4 linked regions of the Homo sapiens genome follow. The protein of the gene in region 3 interacts with the protein of the main gene of each other region in a pairwise test. Each region holds a gene or a part of one and is shown on either strand. Other genes may lie near its edges.

Evidence for each region. The genes of interacting proteins can lie anywhere in the genome.
Region 1: the proteins of TUT7 (region 3) and PECAM1 interact in binary tests that used the Homo sapiens proteins (3 or more experiments, as listed by UniProt).
Region 2: the proteins of TUT7 (region 3) and NDUFV2 interact in binary tests that used the Homo sapiens proteins (3 or more experiments, as listed by UniProt).
Region 4: the proteins of TUT7 (region 3) and KLK6 interact in binary tests that used the Homo sapiens proteins (3 or more experiments, as listed by UniProt).

Annotation. Positions count from the first base shown.
Region 1 is NC_000017.11:64,384,361-64,387,860, reverse strand, and holds part of PECAM1 (platelet endothelial cell adhesion molecule precursor), read left to right. Parts: intron 1-3,500. UniProt on the Homo sapiens protein: Cell adhesion molecule which is required for leukocyte transendothelial migration (TEM) under most inflammatory conditions.
Region 2 is NC_000018.10:9,126,699-9,130,198, forward strand, and holds part of NDUFV2 (NADH dehydrogenase [ubiquinone] flavoprotein 2, mitochondrial precursor), read left to right. Parts: intron 1-132; coding exon 133-209; intron 210-3,500.
Region 3 is NC_000009.12:86,344,411-86,347,910, reverse strand, and holds part of TUT7 (terminal uridylyltransferase 7), read left to right. Parts: intron 1-1,430; coding exon 1,431-1,612; intron 1,613-2,125; coding exon 2,126-2,242; intron 2,243-2,756; coding exon 2,757-2,934; intron 2,935-3,500. UniProt on the Homo sapiens protein: Uridylyltransferase that mediates the terminal uridylation of mRNAs with short (less than 25 nucleotides) poly(A) tails, hence facilitating global mRNA decay. Essential for both oocyte maturation and fertility.
Region 4 is NC_000019.10:50,963,092-50,966,591, reverse strand, and holds part of KLK6 (kallikrein-6 isoform A preproprotein), read left to right. Parts: intron 1-2,081; exon of another isoform or gene 2,082-2,164; intron 2,165-2,925; exon of another isoform or gene 2,926-3,036; intron 3,037-3,042; coding exon 3,043-3,290; intron 3,291-3,500. UniProt on the Homo sapiens protein: Serine protease which exhibits a preference for Arg over Lys in the substrate P1 position and for Ser or Pro in the P2 position.

The DNA.
Region 1 (3,500 bases), on a different chromosome or scaffold from region 3:
GCCTCGGCCCTTTCCCTTCCTTCCATCTCAGGCCTCTTTGTTCCCCTCCAGCCCGCACCTCACTGCAGCTGCCTCACCTCAGGAGGTGACGGCTGCTCCATCTTCACCTAGAAAACAGTCATCTGGAGGGAACTCCCTCAACTTCCCGCCTGGGCCTGGCTGCAGGCTTATCAGCCTCTCCACCCATCCTCTCGGTTTCCCTCCCGGCCTCGGAGGACACATGCACCCTGCTCCTCAGCTGATGGGGGCCAGCCAGGCACTTAGGCTGAGACCCTTCCTCACCCCCAGGACCCCACGCCTACGTGCATTCAAGTCCCTCTCCCCTACCACCACTTCTAGAATCTCTATTTCTGCTTCTGGCTCTGTTCTCTCAGTGAATGGGAACTCTTTTTTTAGGAAAAAGAAAAATCACAAGCAGACACCCACCCCCACCGTTTATCTGGTGTCCCCCTATCTGGCCTTTCTAGTTTCCTTTCTCAGTCGAACCTCTCTGAAAGTTAGTTTATAATCTGTGCCTACCCACCTCACCTCTCAGACACGCCTCGCCTCCCAGCAGCCTGGCCTCAGGCCCCACTTCTCCGGCTGTTGGGTCTCCTCTTGCTGAGGGGTCACCAAGGACCACCTGATGCCAAATGCAACGGACACTTCCAGCCCTCGGCTCCCTGTACCCCTTTCCTGCCTTTGACTTTTGATCGTGCCCCAAAGCCTCGCTCCTTGACCTTTTCCATCCTCTTCCCTGCTTTGTCTCCTCACTCTCTAACAAACCCTCTTCCTTCTCCCCCATGGCTGACTTTGGACTTACTTTGTCTTCTCCTGGAGTCTGAACCCTGTCCTGGTCTCTGCGGGCTCCTGGTCTTATCCTCCCTGGAGACCAGCTCCCCTCTCAACACCTCCACATTCCCCCCTCCTCCCCTAAGTTCACACTCCTCCCACCTTCACAGTCCAGCCCTGGCCTCTGCCCTGAGCCTCCAGTTAACACAGGCTGACCTTTGATGTCTCCTCCCAGTCCTCCTACTGGCCCCTCACACGCAGCTGCACCACCATCACTTTGTCTTCCTTCCTTATCTTTTTCTGTTTGTTTGTTTGTTTTTGTAGAGACTGGGGTCTCATTTTGTTGCCCAGGCTGGTCTCAAACTCCTGGGCTGAAGCCATCCTCCTGCCTCGGCCTCCGAAAGTGCTGGGATAACAGATATGAGCCACCACACCCAGCTGCGTGTGGCATTTTCTATTTTAGTTTGGTGGCACACACATCCTCCTGGGAATCTAATCCAGGAAGTTTATCTTCCATTCTTTCAACCCCATATCCAATCAAACAAAGTCTTTTTTTAAATTGTGGTAAAATACAAATAATATAACATTTATTATTAATGACATTTAGTACATTCACGGTGTTGTGCAACCATCACCATTGTCTAATTCTAGAACATATTCTTTCTTTTTCTTTTTTTTTTTTTTTTGACAGAGTCTCACTCTTGTTGCCCAGGCTGGAGTGCAGTGGTTGGATCTCAGCTCACTGCAACCTTCACCTCCCAGATTCAAGCAATTCTCCTGCCTCACCCTCCTGAGTAGCTGCAATTACAGGCACGAACCACCATGCCCGGCTAATTTTTGTATTTTTAGTAGAGACAAGGTTTTGCCATGTTGGCCAGGCTATTCTCAAACTCCTGACCTTAAGTGATCCACCTGTCTTGGCCTCCCGAAGTGCTGGGATTCATTCTAGAACATTTTCAACACCCCAGAAACAAGTCCTGTTGAGTCCACTCAGGAGATCCCCAGCCTATCCTTCCCTCATCCCCACTGCACCCGCCTAGCTCAGGCCTCATCAGCTTTCACCTGAACCACTTCCAAGCTGTTTACTGGCCTTGGGTGCTGTCACACCCCTCCTGACACCCTCAGGACAGGGCCCAGCTTGTCAGCACAGCAGGCCAGCCCTCCATTCTGGCACGACAGACCCAGCCACCTGGCCTCTCTAGCCCCACACTCTGGTTTCTGTAATGGGCCATGCCCAGAAGGCACGGATTTCTCACACCCTCGTGTCCTGGGACACGCTGTTCTCTTACCTGGAGTACCCCACTGCCTGTCCTTGGCCTGGCAGGCTCAGTTCAGTGGTCACTTCCTTCAGACTCCTTGACCTCTCCTGGGCAGCCCTTCCTCTTGGTGCTTACTGATATCACTGGAGTCCAGCTATGTGGGCCCCAGCAACCTTTGCTGTTTGGGACAGCAAGGATGATTTCTTACTTACTCTGTCAGCCCAGCACCTGGCACAGGTTCTCGACACATGTCTCATTGGATGGGAACTTGAACTGAACTTGGAGATGCTTGAGATTCGGGTAGGAAGATGGCTCAGCATGCTCTCTGATGAGCACAGAAGTTCATCAGGGACTCTATGCTTCGTGGCTCCCAGTAATTTTCCTGACGAGGGTGGGCAGCCCCTCCTTCTCCTGCACCCTCCACTTTCTCTCTGAGTCATTTCCAGGTTGAGGGCCAGGGGGCTGGCTGACTGATGGTGCCGCATGTTTCCAGGGAGCACCACCATCCACTGATGAGTGGCCTTGAGGTCAAGGTCCCACTGTTTTTAGCATGTTGGGGTTTGGCACTGTGGTCACTGGCTGTTCCGTGGTGACTTTCCAAATTTAGATCCTTCTCCGTCAACCTTCATCTCCCCGGGTTGAAAAGATCTGACCTCTTTAGGCTGTCCCACAGCCCCACCCTTCATCACAATAGTCCTGAAACTTTTTGGGTTCAGTAAGGAAATCTGTGGGCCTTCTCTCCAGAAAAAGCACACATTTGCACACAATTGGAGGTAGTTGATGAGCCTCCTAACACCCACCCATGCACCTCCCAGGGGCTGTGTCCCCCAGGTTGTGAACAGTCACTCTGTGTAAATAGTGAGACCTACAGGCAGTAATTCAGTTTGGCTGTGCTTGGCTGGTTTATTTAGAAAGATGATAATGTTTTCCATATTATCAAAACAAGAATCAGGCAGAGACTTTTGAAGTTTGGTTGCGTGGTATATTTGTTACCTATTGCTGCATAACAATTTACCTAAAACTTACTGGCTTAAGATAACACAGATTTATTATCCTGAAGTTTCTGAGGGTCAGGAATGCAGGAGTGGCTGAGTTGGGTGGTGCTGGCACCGGGTCTCATTAGATTGCAGATAAATTGTTGGTCAGGGTTGCGGTTATCTGAAGGCTTGACTGAGTCTGGGGAATCTGCTTCCAAGCTCACTCCTGTGGCTATGGGCTGGAGGCCTTAGTTCCTCATCCTGGGTACCTTCCACAGGGCTGCTTATGCTATGACTGCTGGCATTCCCCAGAATGAGGGATCCCAGACAGGAGAGAGAGTGATCAGGATAAAAGCTGCATTGTCTTTTATTACCTGATGGAGTATTTTGTTGGTTAATGTTAACGTGGGAGGTGACCACGTGTAAGTGTGATGAGCAGAGGGCAAGGACCATTGGGGGGGGCATCTTGAAGGGCTTCTATAGCAAGGGAGGT
Region 2 (3,500 bases), on a different chromosome or scaffold from region 3:
CTGAGGTAGGAGGATTGCTTAAGCCCAGGAGTTGGAGACCAGCCTGGGCAACATAGTGAGACCTTGTCTCTATAAATATATCGATATAAAAGAAAGTAATTTAAATATGACTATTGTTAATTTTTTTTCCAGGAGGATTTGACAGCTAAGGATATTGAAGAAATTATTGATGAGCTCAAGGCTGGCAAAATCCCAAAACCAGGGCCAAGGTATGCTTTATTTATATATAGGAAGTTTTAGTGGCTCACCTAAATTAATCTTTCAGATAAACTTGATTTAAAAAATTTTATACCTTAAGTTCATAGGAATTGGTAGGAGCTTTGGATAGTATTATCTATATGAATCTCATCTAGAGCAAGAATAATTTTTTTTCTAAAACCCTGTCTGATAATCATCCGATACCTGAATATTTATAGAGAAGGAAATTTTACTACAAATAGAAATCTATTCCATTATTTAAAAGTTCATACTGATAGAAGATTGACCCAAAGACCATCTCCCTCTAATTTCTACCTAAAAATCCAATTCTGCCCTTTGAATCAACAAAAGATAATTTTAGTACCTCTTCCAAATGACAGCTCTTCAATTACTTGAAATAGCTACCCTGTCTTCCCCTTATCTTTTTCTCAGATGGAATATCCACAATTGTTTCATTGTTTTTCTCATATGACATAGCTTTGGTCTCCCTCTGTGGGTTTTCTAGTTGGCTAGTGACTATTTAATGCTTTAATGTGATGCTTAAACTAATCATGGTTTTTTGTCTTTTTTATTTATTTATATTTTGAGACGGAGTCTCACTCCGTCACCCAGTCTGGAGTACAGTGGCGCAGTGGCACAATCTCAGCTCAGTGCAAGCTCCACCTCCCAGGTAGAAGTGATTCCCCTGTCTCAGCCTCCCGAGTAGCTGGGATTACAGGTGCCAGCCACCACGCCCGGCTAATTTTTTGTATTTTTAGTAGTGACGGGGTTTCACTGTATTAGCCAGGATGGTCTCCGATCTCCTGACCTCGTGATCTGCCCGCTTCAGACTCCCAAAGTGCTGGGATTACAGGCATGAGCCACTGTGCCCGGCCTAATCATGGTATTTTGAGATACATACTGAGCAGCACAGAGCATTGTGGGACTGCCTCCTTTGTTCCAGACATTATGCTTGTAATAATTGTGCCTAATTATATCAACTCCTACTTCAGAGACATTACACAATTAACTGCACTTCATAATACCTAGATCTTTTTCTGTTCACTATTTATCCAGGTTGCTCCCGTCCCATACCTGTGTTACATTAATTACTTTCCTTTCAGTTATGAACTTGGATTTTCACTTTTAAACAAACCCTTATTCCATGTATGTGTTCAATCACTCAAAATTCTCTCTTAATACTAGCAAATGTTCTCATGGTTTTAGTCATAATCCCTCAAATTTTTTGTTTATGTATATAAATTTTTTCTTCCCTCAGCACATTTGGAGTTTTTGATGTCCATACGGTATTCTAATGTTTTAAAACAGCTGTGATGTGCTCTTACTCCCGTTTTAAAATATTTTTCTTAAGCTTTATTATAAATAACAATTCCCTGAAGTAGAATTACTAAGAGGGTATGAGTGGTTCTAGAGTTTGCTCTCTAAAACTACTAATAATACCCTACTTAATGAGAAAATGAGGTCAGTTCAGGATAACTTAAGTTTAGTAAATGCTAGCTGGCCCCTGTTGACCATTACTTTCTTTTCTAAGAAACGTATACTGTTCTTAACAACCTGAGCCTATAGAATTGAATTTGCTTAAAGAGTGTTGGCATTTTCTTCCTAATTCCTCACTTTCTTGGGTATACCCCTTTTTTTAGGAGGTAAATCATTTCCCTGGTGAAAAATCATTCTCCTTTATGGAGGCAACTGAAGTAAAACCTTTAGTCATCTATCATTACAGTATCTTTCTTAGCTAGTGCTCCTATCCCTTACTTATTCTTGCTTTAAATAGACACTGTCCCCCCAAAAAGTACAAATTTCATAATATTTTCCACAAGCTTCATCTGCTTTTTAGGATTCAGGTATTTTAAAATAAATTCATGCTATTCTTAGGTTTGTACTTCAGCCCATAACTTCTTTCACCTTTTGGGTACTCTAAAGAATATCTCAAGTGCAGATTTCCTTGTGAAATCCACTTGGGTTCTTTAGATGGCCCCTCTCTTCTGATTAGATGTTTTGAATTCTATAGTCATAACTTTGGTGTTGGGCTTCCTCCCCCCCACTCCTCCCCTCACCCGAGATGGAGTCTTGCTCTGTCACTTAGGCTATAGTGCAGTGGTGTGATCTCGACTCACTGCAACTTCTGCCTCCCAGGCTCAAGCGATTCTCCTGCCTCAGTCTCCCGAGCAGCTGGGACTATAAGAACGTGCCACCACCATGCCCAGCTAATTTTTGTATTTTTAGTAGAGACGGGGTTTTACCATGTTGGCCAGGGTGGTCTCGAACTCCTGACCTCAAGTGATCTGCCTGCCTTGGCCTCCCAAAGTGCTGGGATTACAGGCTTGAGCCACCACGCCCGGCCACTTTGGCGTTTAGAATCTTCTGCTTTGCTTCTTGTGAACTGTGGGATCTATGGTTCATATTAATCTAGTATTACTCTCCTGCCACACAAATTGATACCTGCTTTGTCTACTTTGTTATGTCACATTACATTAAATACTCAACAGTAATTTTTTTCACAAATTTTTTTGAGTGCCTGCTGTGTGTCAGGCATTATTTTAGGTTATGAATACAATTATGAACAAGATAAAGTTCTCATATATCTTCTAGTGATGGAGACAGATGACTAGTGTAATATGTGAGTGATAAAAAGGCTACACAATAAAATGTAGCAGGTGTTAGGGGATAGATAGGGAGTAAATTTAGTGAGGAGAGGCCGCTTAGAGGTGGTAACATTTGAGCCATGACCTGAATGAAGAGCTAGAGGGAACCATGTAAAGAGCTGAAGGAACAATGTTCCAGGGAGGGGAAAGAGGATGTATCAGGGTCCTGGAAGAAAAGTAAGGTAACAGTATGGCTGCAGTGAGGTGCTCAAGCAAGAAAGCAGTGGAAGGGGTCAGAGGAGATAAGGGCCCAGATAAGTAATCTGGGCTGAATCTTAAATATAATAAAAACTGTTGGAATGTTTTCAGTAGGGAATGGAATGAGCAATCTTAAAATACTGCCATAGTTGCTATGTGGAGATTAGAATTTAGTAGATATGTGGGACTAAGGATTTATGAGTGATTTTCAGCTTTTTGGCTTGAGCATCTCTGAGGTTCCTTTACCGAAAATAGAGAAGATTTGTGGTAGGGCAAGTTTGGGGAAGAAAAGTCAAATTTTGTTTTAGACATAGTAAGTTTGAGATGCCTGTTAAGACATCCATGGTATGATGCTGATAGGTAGATACGAACCTGGAATATAGGGAATAGGTTAGGGCTGGAAACACAAATTGGGGATTCATCAGTTACTAAGGGTAGTATTTAAAGTTATAAATCTGG
Region 3 (3,500 bases):
TAAAAGAAGTGCTTATCTGAAAAAAAAAAATTGTTCAGACCAGAAATACTGGCCTTAAAAGATTATGATAATTTAATTGGGAGTCGGGGGAGTATTAAAAAGGAAATATTAAGGTAGCGCAAGGTAGCCTGATTTTCTGTTGAAATGACAACTTACCTTTTAGTATTTTATTTGTTCAGTGTATTTTGATTGATTTTTTAAAACTACTTTTCCAACACTTTAATTTTTTTTAATTTTTTAATTTTCTTATATTGTGGAAGGTGTTTGCAGAATTTTGAGATAGTCATCTCAGGTAGTTTTAGCACAATGCTTGCTGCTTATCCTTTAGCGCTCTCAGCAAGCTTTTTATAAAATTGGAGGTCCTATATTTCCTTTTCAGCCTGCCAGTTCATTGTAATTGCCATACTAGTAGTAATGAGTTCCTCTGAAAACTTGATGGAGGAATTACTTCATGTAGGGCTTTTCAGTAGGTTTATGTTTCCAAGCACTAATGTGTTACTAATAGTTTCATTTTTTAAAACTCGATATAAGTTATCAAAGCTATCTAAAACAATTTTTTATGGTTTAATCCCACAATCACTTTAACAAGTTGAAAAGTTATAAGTTTTAAAAAGGAACAGGATGATTTTTATTCATTATAAGGATTATAGAACTAATAGCAGAGTTTATAAACAAATGTACTTAGAGAAAACTTTTGTTTCAATGGCCAGTTGTTTTTTTCCTTTGAAATATGCTCAGTGTACAGGCCATTCAAAGAAGCTAAAATGAAGGTAAAGGTAAAATGAGAGATAGTTGTCCTTAGTAAATAAAATTTTGGCTTGGACTTCTTCATATTAACGGAGGGACCCGGCTTAGGTGTTATTGATGGCTAAATTTGCAACTAAATGATGATTTTTCACTCCAGATGAGTATATAGTTGATTTCTGAGTTGTCCAGGGGTACATTTTGCATTTTGCCTTATTGAGATTGTTCACTTATAGAAGATGAAAGCAAATGTGGCTGGTTTTAATGAGAATAACAGGTGTACTTACAGATATTATAGAATATGTAAGATATATTTACAATATGTATTGTAATATTTTAATATAATAGAATTATAGATATACTTGCCTTCAGAGTATAATTTTTCTGTTGCTTTGCTATGCTCAGCAGTATACCAGGAAGAGATAATAAAAATCAAATTGTATGATTGAAGTAGAATTCTTTTAAATTTTCCAAAAAGATGATTTCTATGGCTTAATGTCTACAGGTGATGTGCTCACTGAATACAGTATTAAAGCATTTTGTCCATAGGACAGCTACCTTTCCTTCTGCTCTGCATGCAGATGTGATTTATTCTCTCACATGATTTAATACATATGTAAGGTCTGCTTTTTACTCAGGAGTGGCATTATTTAATATTGCCAATAATATTTTTCCCCCACCTTAAGAAAACAAGAAGCAGAGGTCCAGACCTAGGAAGCCACGGAAGACTAGAAATGAGGAAAATGAGCAGGATGGAGACTTGGAAGGCCCTGTGATCGATGAGTCTGTACTTTCAACGAAGGAGCTGCTAGGCTTACAGCAGGCTGAGGAGAGACTGAAGAGAGACTGCATTGACAGGCTAAAAAGGGTAACATCCTTATATATATATTTGTTGGTTAGAATCCTGGTTTTAGCCTCAATTTTGTTGTTAATTGAGTATGCATGCTCTGATCAATTAGATATCCTACTTTGGTTATCAGTATTTAAGCACTACAAGTTAAAAGTGATGTCCAGTGTGATTTAATAGGATTAGGAGTCATTGCTATTATACTTAAAATGACTGTTAGGGTAGTGATAAAGGGAACAATAACAGTAGCAATTTTAAAAGTGAAGAAGAAGCCAGGCACAGTGGCATGCCTGTAGCCCCAGTTACTTGTGAGGTTGAGGCAGGAGGATTGCTTGAACTCAGGAGTTTGGGGCTGTAGTATGCTATAATGGTATCTGTGAATAGCCAGTTCACTCCAGCCAGGGCAACATAGTGAGACTCCTGTCTCTTTAGAGAAAAGAAATTGAAGGGGAAATCATTTCCTGGCTGATTTTGTTTATCTGAATGTTTGGTTTTACTTATGTCTCTCTCTAAATAAATCTCTTCAAATTATAGCGACCACGAAACTACCCTACAGCAAAGTACACCTGCAGACTCTGTGATGTTTTAATTGAATCCATTGCATTTGCCCATAAGCATATCAAGGAAAAGAGGCACAAGAAAAACATTAAGGTAAATTGAATGTAACCCAAACAAGTCTGCTTACTTGTTAGTTGTTATTACTTGTCATCTTTGTGGCTTTCTTCTCCTTAAGGCTATGATATTGATAACTTTACTGCTTTATTTATTGAATATATTTGAGCCAAAATACATAATACTGGTCAGATGTATTTTACTGGTTAATCTTGTGAATTTCCTTAAGGGCAGCATCAGGTTATATGAAGTCATTGATAGGACCCAGGTATATGTCCTTATACTAGTATTAAAGCAAACAATGTTTGTAAGTGCTGTTTTTAATATTCTTTCCTTACACTTTCTCCTTATGCCCACCTATCCTCTGTTACCACTGATCCACATTATGTGCATAAGGAAGTATGTATATGTTTGATAGGATGAAAACTAACACAGCTAAAATGAGAAGGGAGGGCTAAGAAAAAGAAAACTCTATAGGGTGTTGTCTTCATGAGTGGTAGAAGGTCAAAACTATGTGTAAGTCATTTTTAATCTCAACATTTGATCTTAAAAGGAGAAGCAAGAGGAAGAGTTGCTCACTACGTTACCCCCACCAACACCCTCCCAGATAAATGCAGTTGGCATTGCCATTGACAAAGTGGTACAGGAATTTGGCTTACACAATGAGAACTTGGAACAGAGGCTGGAAATTAAACGTATCATGGAAAATGTGTTCCAACACAAGTTACCAGGTATTTTCTAGATTTGTTTTTCTATTTAACTACCTAAAAGTACCTCATTCATTTCTCCTACCAATAGTAATTTTCATCAAATAAAAATTTATTTACCATGTCATGAAGCTCTTGTGTTTTCTATTTTTTTGTTTTTTGTTTTCCCTGGCTTTCCCTAAGGTAACAAGGACTTTCATATGCATTGTCATTATAAACCTGTTTCCATTATAAATTTTACCCTGTGTGTGAACTTTAAGTTGAATGCCCTGCATTATTGGGGCACTGTGGGACTCTTGTGTATGTATGTTTCCCTTTCCGCTCATCTAAATTGACACCATATTTTGAGTTAAAATCAAGAGAAGTATCCTGAAGTTATTTTCAGGTTATTCATGTCAAAAAAAAAAAAAAAGATTTTATTTAACTGTACTTAAGAGAATTGCAGCATCTAAAATGAACTTTGAAAACTAGTTTTAAGAAATTTGTATTGGATTTTGTGCACTGTTGAATTGATTTTCCAAGTTATGTCTGTCTTCTGCCTGTTTTTAACTTTAGACCTTTGGCATGATGGGGAGGGGGCACAACTATTT
Region 4 (3,500 bases), on a different chromosome or scaffold from region 3:
TGACCTCAGGTGATCCGCCCGCCTCGCCCTCCCAAAGAGCTGGGATTACAGGCATGAGCCACCACCACACCCAGCCTGATTTACATTTTTACAAGCACCCTGGCTACCACGTGGAACGTGGTCTGGGCAAGAGAGAGGGAGGGAGGCCCACGTGGGGGCTGTTGCTTTCATCCGGCGACATAGGAGGGTGGCTTGAACCCAGGCGGTCGCAGTGGGGATGGAGGGATGTTGAATATCTTGGGATGTGGAATTCTGAGACTGAGCCAGCAGAATCTGGCAACGAGGAACAGGAGGGAGAGGAAGAAGCACGGCTGGCTTCCGTGTATTTGTCCTGAACAACTGGGTGTTTTGCCACGTCTTTCTCTGAGTTGTGGGAGAGGGAAAGAGAAACAGGCCGGGTGTAGGCAGGGGAGCATCTGACATTTTGCTTTAGCCACGATGAGTTGGAGATGCCGGGGAGATGTCCCAGCAGGGAGGCCAGGGAGGACTCTGGAGCTCAGAGGAGAGGTCAGGGCTGGAGGTTAAAATGAAGGCATCGTCAGCAAACAGGTGTATTTAAAGCCATGGGACTAGATGAGATCATCCAAAAAGCTGGCATAGTTGGAGGAGCTGGAGGGCCCAGGACAAAAACCCTGGGCGCTGATCCTCACTAGTCAGATTCACGACAGCTGCCACTTGTTTGATGCTAACTACCAATCAGGTGCTGAGTGAAACCATGTACACACCTTTCCTGGAATGCCCACCACAAGGGACTCTTGGCACCATTTTGCAAATGAGGAAACTGAGGTGCAGGGAAATAGCAAGTGACAATCCCTGGGGTGGTTCCCCTGACCCCAAGGAGACCTTGGATGACTCTCACCACCATCATTCATTCCTTTGATGTACATTGACTAAGAGCACCTGCTAAGTGCCACATTCGAGTTGGGCAGTGGAGATTCAGCAATGGATGGGACACACACGTCATCCCTGCCCTCGGGAGCACAAGGACAGAAAGGTGCAGACAAGCAAAGTGAGGGCTGGGCATGGTGGCTCACGCCTGTAATCCCAGCACTTTGGGAGGCCGAGGTGGGTGGATTACCTGAGTTCGAGACCAGCTTGGCCAACATGGCTCAACCCTGTCTCTACTGAAAATACAAAAAATTAGCCAGGCGTGGTGGTGGGCTTCTGTAATTCCAGCAACTTGGGAGGCTAAGGCAGGAGAATTGCTTGAACGTGGGAGGCGGAGGTTGCAGTGAGCCGAGATCGCGCCACTGCACTCCAGCCTGAACCACAGAGCGAGACTCTGTCTAAAAAAAAAAAAAGGAAAGAAAGAAGCAGCAAATTGGGCTGGCCGTGGTGGCTCATGCCTGTAATCCCAGCACTTTGGGAGGCCGAGGCGGGTGGATCACTCGAGCCCAGGAGTACAAAGCTGCAGTGAGCTGTGATCTACAGAACACCACTGCAGATCCAGCCTGGGTGACAGAGCGAGACCCTGTCTCAAAAAAACAAACAAACAAAAGAAGCAAACCCTTCAAAACCCCATATAATTACAAATTATGAAGGAAAAGAATACGGGTACCTACTTTAGATGGAGGAGGGTCAGGAAGGACTTTCTAATGAGATAAAATCCAAGCGGAGGCATGAAGATGGGAAAAGGAATGTTCAGGGCAGAGGAAAGGCTGTGATAACACCCCTGAGGTGAGAACCGTCTTGAGTATTCTCAGAAAATAAAATTTCCCGTTCACTGGGGGGCAGAAGGTGCTGGGAGATAAGGTTGGAAAGTGACTACAGCCAGATCACACAGGGGCTCCAGTGCCAAGTGGAGGAGCCCAGGCTTTATTCTTAGGACAATGGGGAGCCATGGGTGATGTCTGAGCAAGGGAGTGACTCTCTGTTTCAGGAATATGTATCAAACACCTATCCTGTGCCAGGTGCTGATCAACGCACTGGAGATACTATATCTGAATAGAACAAAAATCCCCATCTTGACATCCTAGAGCTGCACTGTCTAATATGGTAGCCATCAGCCACATATAGCAAATTACATTGAAATTAATGAAATGGAAAATCCACAAGCCACATTTCAAGTACTCAGCAGCCACCTGTAGCTTGTGGTTCCCCCAGCCACCTCTGGACAGTGCAGATCGAGATCATGGCATCGTAGCATTTAGTGGACAGCATTGCTCTGCAAGGAGGAGAAATAACACAATGAGTAAATATTTAACAATAAATATATAGCAGGTCGGATGATTGTGATAGGTTCTCTGGTGGAACAGAAAGCAGGGGAGGGAGATAGGAATTGCCTACTAACAGGTATTTGTATTTTAATTGGGCAACTAAGGAAGGCTTCCCTGAGAGGCGACATTTAAAGGAAGTGAGGGAGTGAGCTATGCAGATACTTGGAGGACAGACTTGCTGGCAGAGGGAACAGCAGTGCAAAGGCCCTGAGGTGGGAAGATCACTATTGTGTTCAAGGCAAGACAGGGAAGCCAGCGTTTGGCTGGAGCAGAGGGAGAGAAGGGGAGAGTGGGAGGAGAAGATGTCTGTGAGATGATGGGGCAGTGCTTGCAAGGCCTGGTGTGCCACGTTGAGAACTTTGGCTTTGATTCTGAGTGAGATGGGAGTCATAGGAGGGGCTGAGCAGAGGAGGCACAGGACCAACTTACATTGTTAAAATATCTCTGGTTGCTTTGTGGAGGATGGACTGTGGGGGACCAGAGACAGAGCAGGGAGCCCAGTGAGGAGGCTACTGCTCTAGTTCAGGTAGGAAGTGAAAAGGCAGCTCAAACCAAGATGGTAGCCGTGGGAAAGGTGAGATGTGGCCAGATTCTGGATATGCTTCAGAGAGGCAAAAGGAATTCTGGACAGCTTGGATGTAGGGCATGAAATAAAGAGAGTGAAGAATAGCCCCCAAGATTATTCTGAAAGGATGGAATTGCCATTTACCCAGCTGGGGAAGACTGTGGGAGGAGCAGGCCAGCGATTCATGACTTCCCAGCCCTCTCTGAAGCCTCAACTGCAGCCCAAGGGCTCCAGGTGAGACCCAGCCCTCTTCCTTCCCAGGAATCTTCAGGTCTTCCTGGGGAAGCATAACCTTCGGCAAAGGGAGAGTTCCCAGGAGCAGAGTTCTGTTGTCCGGGCTGTGATCCACCCTGACTATGATGCCGCCAGCCATGACCAGGACATCATGCTGTTGCGCCTGGCACGCCCAGCCAAACTCTCTGAACTCATCCAGCCCCTTCCCCTGGAGAGGGACTGCTCAGCCAACACCACCAGCTGCCACATCCTGGGCTGGGGCAAGACAGCAGATGGTCAGTAGTGGGAGGCTGGTGGGGAGCAGGCTACTGGCTACTTGGGGAAGTGTGCCAAAGGATGGGGAGTGGGAAAATTGGTGAGGGGCCATGGGAAGATGGGCTAATGGTGAGGACCAATGGGACAGGGTTTCAATGGGAGAAAGGTCAAGGGGGAGGGAGAGTGAATTTGGGAGCTGGGCCAGTGAGTGAACAGCCAATGGAAAATGT